Homo sapiens: one gene and its partner. The protein of the gene in region 1 purifies or fractionates together with the protein of each later gene. This does not show direct contact. Each region holds a gene or a part of one and is shown on either strand. Other genes may lie near its edges.

Region 1 (3,830 bases):
TCTCCTCAGTAACAGCAGTTTTCCACAGAGTGCCTCCCTGCCACCATACTTCTCTCAAGGTTTGTACTCTGGGCTTTTGTGACGTGCTTCAGCCATCAAGCCTTTATGACTGGATCCCTAACCTGTCCCAAAAGCTTTCGACAAAGGTTTTATTGTTTCCTAAAAGCATCTGATTTCCTCATTCAACATTTAATTCCGTGTCTGCAGTGTGCCAAGGGCTGTCGGAATGATAGGATAGTACCTAAAACACAACACATACACACACACGTATACATATACATGCCCATACACACATGCACATATACATGCACACACACACATGCATACACATGTACACATATATACATGTGCACACAGGTATACACATATATACACATACACAATACATGCACACACATGCACATGCATACACACATACATACATGGACACACCTACACACACTTCACCAGGAAGCCAGCCCTCATCCCCAATCTTCCTGTGCAGAACTATTCCTCCAGCTCCGGTTTCCCTACGGAATCCTCAGAATCCTGTTTGCCTTTCTCTGCAGTTTTAGATTTCCATGATCAATCTGTCCATGGTTGTGAGTTGGGGAGCATGTTCAAAATACAAACTAAGAGAACTTAACGTCACAGATTCTGATTCAGTAAGTCCGGAGTGAAGTCAGGGACCTGTGTTTTTAATAATACCACCTCTGGACGTCCATGATTAGTATTCGCTTAGAGTGTTCTGCAACTTGAAAGTGCATATAGATCACCTGGGAATTGTGTTAACATGCAGATTCTAATTCAGGAGGTCTGGGGTGAGGCCTGAGTTTCTGAATTTCTAACATATTCCATGCGATGCTGTGACTGCTGGTTCATGAACCACTTTGAAAGGCACTGGGGCAGGACTAATTTGTGCTTTTTATCCTTAAAGACTTGCAAGTGACAGGCACTTGGTAGGCACTTTAAAAATGCTTGTCGAATGAGCATCAAATGACTAGGGAAAGTTACCCAACTCTAGTAAGTAGCATTCCAGGAAACTGGCTTAGCATTGCCAGATTTTCCAATTTTTTTCTCAAGAAAAGTGAAATTATTTAATTTTTAAATGTTGACTTAAATTTTTAAAAAATGCTGTGAAGAATGACAACAGAAAAGCCACTTTTTTTGCAGTCATGTTCCACATGCAGTGTGTGCACGGGCCAGTGTGTGTTCAGTAGAAAACTATGTTAGTAAATGTGAGTTGATAGCCTGAGAATCAACATTTTTTCCAAGAACACATCTAGGGTATTCAGTTGGATGCATCATTCCATAGAGGGGCGAGATCCCACTGCTGACGCCAGTGGCACCCACTAAGTTTTCAATGTTTTCTAAGCATTTGAGGTTATGGTGGTGTCCACGTTCACCACATGGTTTTCACAGTTTCTCGCCCAACCCCTAATTTTCCACAATCCCCAAAATTCTCTGTGTTTTGCAAACACACATTTGTGTTACCTCCTTGCCTCTGTAGCCATCTGAGTCCCAGACACATCACAGCATTATTTTCCAAAGCAAGTTCCACAGATCTCCAGTTTTATGAGTCTGTGATGGGGCTTATTAATGCAAATAGTTAATTATTTTTGGAACATTAGCTTGATCCAAATTGATCTCTTTTCCCCTAAGACTGCCAGGACACCTGGTCCTCGGTCTTCTCTACTGGTTCTACTGGTTGTTCCAACATCAGAAGGATAAAGTTTGTGCTGTGCATTGCCCAAAAACCTGTCATGACTCCCTTGAGAGTCTAGATATTAAGGGTGGTAGGTGACTGCAATAAAAAAGTGTATGTGCTTCTCTGTTGTAACTTAGAACTCTATGATGCTGGCCTGCAGGTGCAGAGGCAGAAAGAGAATCATTTCTTAACTGTAGAATGGCCATGCAATGCGGGCCTTGGTTCTGTTACTCTCCTGTATTGTTAGGTTTCATTCATTCAACAAGCATTATAAAAGTGCAAGTGTTGGACTGCAAAAAAAATGGGGATGGGGAAGATCTGTCTAGGCACTGGGAACTTGGAGAAGGAAGGCACTGGCAGCTCAGGGCCAGCTTGTTTAGAAACAGGGAAGGAGCATCTTAAACAATCCTGTTGATGTGGCTCAGGAGACTTGTTTAAAAACAGGGAAGGACCATCATAAATAATCTTGATGATGCGGCTCAGGAGGCTTTAGCCCTTACAGGTGACTCTCCTCTCCTCAGTGGTGTAACAAGGTAGACGTAGTGACAATCCGTGGTGTAGAACCACCGGAAGTACTTGCTAACATGCAGATTTCTGAGCCCCAGGTGCTCGCAAGTCGCCCAGGGATTCTGACTCATGCACAGTAGCATTTGGTAACCACAGGTTTAAGTTTTGGCTTTGCCACTGATAGCGCATGATTTGCTTAGCCTCTGAGCCTGTATTTCCCCATATGCAAAATGAAGACAATACCTACCTTGTAATGTTGCTGTGAGGATTAAAAAAAATGTACACACGATACCTTACTCAAGATCTGGACAGAGTTGTGCTGAATAAATATTTGTTGAAGGTATGAATGAATGATGGTTAAATAATTAAGAGAACATTTGACTCACAGAATTTTTCTGTTTTTAACCACAGCCTGGCACATAGAAAATACCCTGGGCAACTGCAATAAACACAACTAAACCTTTCCTGAGATTAGGAAACATTCTCCTAAAGTTTCAAGGAACTGTAAATGAGAAAAAAGAGTTTTAGAGAAGATGAGGCACAAGCACTGGGTAATTAATAGTTGCCCAGTAAAAACTTCCTGATCTGTAGTGCCTTCTATGTGAGTTGAACAGTCTACCTGTTTAGTTAGAACAGCGGGTAGCCAACTTTGATTCTAAAAGCTAGCAATATTCTCAAGGTAATTTTGTCTTCTCTTGGGTCACTTACATTTCTTTTTGTGGAAACATTAAGAACATAATTATCTTCATCATTGCATTGTCCCTACATCAGCTGTTGGGAATCCATTCTGCCTATGATGATATTATAAGAATCTATGAAAAATTTGTCTCTTGAGCATTCATTTTGACGTTCACATTCATTAAAACAATTGCGAATTTTTTTATAAAGGGATCTAGTCACTTTATATTATGTAACATGCACATTTAGAAAAATCACTCAAAGTTGAGGTTCTCTTCTCAAAGTTTTACTGGCATGATTACAGAATAATGCCTGAGCAGCCCCCATGGTTTCAAACAGATGAAAATTATTTTTGAAGCCCTTGTTTCTTAAAATGCGAACTATAGGACCAATCGCAAGGGTATTTTTTTGGGGGAGTGGGGGGAATGTGTTTTGTGTTTTGATAGCAGCAAACAATAGCTTACAGTAAATTAACTGTCAGAATTCTATACTTTTGAAGGCCCTAGCAACAGACCACCTATCAGAGCCGAAGGCAGAAACTTCCCCTTGCCACTTCCAAACAAACCTCGGCCCCCATCCCCCGCGGAGGAAGAGGTAAGAGAGCATGTTTTTATTTTTGTTTGTTTGCCTTTTCCCTGGTAAAAGAATCACCAGAAACTCCCATTGAATGTTCTTCTGTACTTTTATCTTCCCTTTGTTTTATTTTATTTATTTGAAAAAAAAGTTAAAGGAGAAGATCCAGATGAACAATATGTTCTTTTCCCTTGGCGTTCTTTCAGACGCTTTCAATGGCAAACATGTGTTTTGCATTAAACAGCAAGAAAAATAATCCTGTTTTTTATGTTTATGACCTTGATTCGTCACTTAACTGCTCAATAACCCATTTTTTTAATCAAGCAGGTTATTATGCTAAACTGAAGAAATTATTGTATCTGTATCTTTCCTGAAGAGGTTCCAT
Region 2 (2,887 bases), on another chromosome or scaffold:
GCCAAAATGGGCAGATTGCTTGAGCCCAGGAGTTCAAGACCAGCCTGGGCAATATAGCAAGACCCCATCTCTACAAAAAATTTAAAAATAAGTCAGGCGTGGTGGTGTGAGCCTGTGGTCCCTGCTACTCAGGAGGCTGAGGCGGGAGAATCGCTTGAGCCCAGGAGGTTGAGGCTGCAGTGAGCCAAGATCATGTCACTGCACTCCAGCCTGTGTAACAGAGCAAGACTTTGTCTCAAAAAAGTAAATAAATAGGGCCGGGCACGTTGGCTCATGCCTGTAATTCCAGCACTTTGGGAGGCTGAGGTGGGAGGATCACGAGGTCAGGAGATCGAGACCATCCTGGCTAACACGGTGAAACCCCATCTCTACTAAAAATACAAAAAATTAGCCAGGCGTGGTGGCGGGCACCTGTAGTCCCAGCTACTTGGGAGACTGAGGCAGGAGAATGGCGTGAAAGCCGGGAGGCGGAACTTGCAGTGAGCTGAGATGACACCACTGCACTCCAGCCTGGGCAAACAGAGCGAGACCCTGTCTCAAAACATAAATAAATAAATAAATAAATAAATGTAATGACTAAAGGAATAAAAGTAGAATGTATAATTTCTAAACCAGAAGAAGATAAGCAGGAAATCAAGAAAAGTCTGTAGATCCAAAGGAGGAAGGGAGAAAACATATACACACACACACACTCTCACACACACAAACACACACATAGAACATTTTCAAAACTTGACCATGTACTCAGTCATAAAGCAGGTCTCAACAAATTCCAAAGAACATATATTCTATAGACCATGTTCACCAACCATGATATAATTAAACTAAACACTTTTTAAAAAAGGATAACTATGCCAGGTGCGGTGGCTCACACCTATAATCCCAGTGCTTTAGGAGGCCAAGATGGGAGGATCACTTGAGCCCAGGAGTTTTGAGAACAGGCTGGGTAACATAATAAAACACTGTCTCTACAAATTTTTCTATTTTTTTATATTTTATTTTATTTTATTTTATTTTATTTTTGAGACGGAGTCTGACTCTATCATCCAGGCTGGAGTGCAGTGGTGTGATCTCGGTTCACTGCAACCTCCATCCCCTGGGTTCAAGTGATTCTCCTGTCTCAGCCTGTAGCTGGAACTACAGGCACCTGCCACCATGCCCAGCTAATTTTGTATTTTTAGTAGAGATGGAGTTGGCCAGGCTGGTCTCGAATTCCTGACCTCAGGTGATCCTCCTCCTTGGTCTCCCAAAGTGCTGGGATTACAGGCACAAGCCACCATACCTGGCCAAAAAAATTTTTTTAATTAGCTTGGCATAATGGGGCACACCTGTAACCCCAGGGGCTTGAGAGGCTGAGGCAGGAGGATAGCTTGAGGTCAGGAGTTCGAGGCTTCAGTGAACTATGATTGTGCCACTGCGCTCCAGCCTGGGCACTCTGTCTCTAAAAGAAAAAAAAAATGAAAAGGCTAACTAAACCCATGTCAGACTAGGTGGGAGGAAGGGCGGGTAAAGGGAGAGACACATAGTGACTGGTGGGAACCTCATGGGCTGAGAGCCAGAATCCTCCCTTTTCCCATCGCCCAGGATGAGAGGACTGAGGCATCAGCTGCAACCTGGACTCAAGGCCCCCTGAAGTCCTTCTGTCCCCAAAGACCTGTGACCTCTGGGATTCCACTCTTCGGAGTTGCAGTTAACTGGGGTATCAGCTGAATCAACGAGGAGGATTCTAGAGTGAACTTCCACACCATACCCCAGGCCCCTAAGCCCACTCCTCCTTGTTTAGCCATCTGTCCTCAGGATGGATGTCCCTTGCTTCCACAGGGAGGCCACGTATCAGGGAAATTGCAGGTCTGCAGGGGCAGATGTTGGCAGCTCTTGCCCTTGCCTGTTCCCCCACCTTAGCAGAGCCAACCCTCACTACTCCCCAGCCTTCCCCGACTCTGCTCTGTTCAACCCTGCAGGGGCCAAGTTCCCCATCAAGTGGACAGCTCCTGAAGCCATCAACTTTGGCTCCTTCACCATCAAGTCAGACGTCTGGTCCTTTGGTATCCTGCTGATGGAGATCGTCACCTACGGCCGGATCCCTTACCCAGGTAGGGAAGGGGCATCAGCTCAGGGCTGCTACCAGGGCCCAGTCTGGCAATGGGCTCATCTCAACAACATGTCCATTCAAACTGAGTTCTTGATCCTCACCCCCAACCTTCCCTCACCTTTCCTGTCTTAGTTAAAGGCACCTCCATCCATCTAATGTCTTAAGCCTGAAATCTGGGGGCTTCCTTGGCCCTTCCTTCTCTCTCACTCCTATGACTTTTTTTTTTTTTTTTTTTTTTTTTGAGACGGAGTCTCCCTCTGTCACCCAGGCTGGAGTGCAGTGACGTGATCTCGGCTCACTGCAACCTCCGCCTCCCAGGTTCAAGCGATTCTCCTGCCTCAGCCTCCTGAGTAACTGGGATTACAAGCATCCACCACCATGCCTGGCTAATTTTTGTATTTTTAGTAGAGACGGGGTTTCACCATGTTGGCCAGGCTGGTCTCGAACTGCTGACCTTAGGTGATGCGCCTGCCTCGGCCTCCCAAAGTGCTGGGATTACAGGCGTGAGCCACTGTGCCTGGCCTCACCCCTATGACATCTGAGCAGTCACAGGGTTTTGGCCACTCGACTCCAAAACATATCCCAAGTCTCACCACTTTGAACCCCACAGTCTCCACTGCATCCAGGCCAGCGTCATCTCCCATAGATGGTGCAGCGGCATCCTCATCAGTCTTACTGCTTTCTCCCTCCTCGTCCTACAGCCTATTCTCCACTTGCAGCCAGAAGGATAATTCTAAACTTTAAATCAGATCTTGTCCTTTCTCCACCTTTTTTTTTTTTTTTAAGACAAGGTCT

Evidence for each region.
Region 2: the proteins of LCP2 (region 1) and HCK purify together in Homo sapiens (pull-down; one study listed by IntAct). This does not show direct contact.

Annotation. Positions count from the first base shown.
Region 1 is NC_000005.10:170,252,755-170,256,584, reverse strand, and holds part of LCP2 (lymphocyte cytosolic protein 2), read left to right. Parts: intron 1-9; coding exon 10-59; intron 60-3,371; coding exon 3,372-3,466; intron 3,467-3,830. UniProt on the Homo sapiens protein: Adapter protein primarily involved in signaling pathways within T-cells, as well as other immune cells such as platelets, mast cells, and natural killer (NK) cells.
Region 2 is NC_000020.11:32,097,043-32,099,929, forward strand, and holds part of HCK (tyrosine-protein kinase HCK), read left to right. Parts: intron 1-1,961; coding exon 1,962-2,093; intron 2,094-2,887. UniProt on the Homo sapiens protein: Non-receptor tyrosine-protein kinase found in hematopoietic cells that transmits signals from cell surface receptors and plays an important role in the regulation of innate immune responses, including neutrophil, monocyte, macrophage and mast cell functions, phagocytosis, cell survival and proliferation, cell adhesion and migration.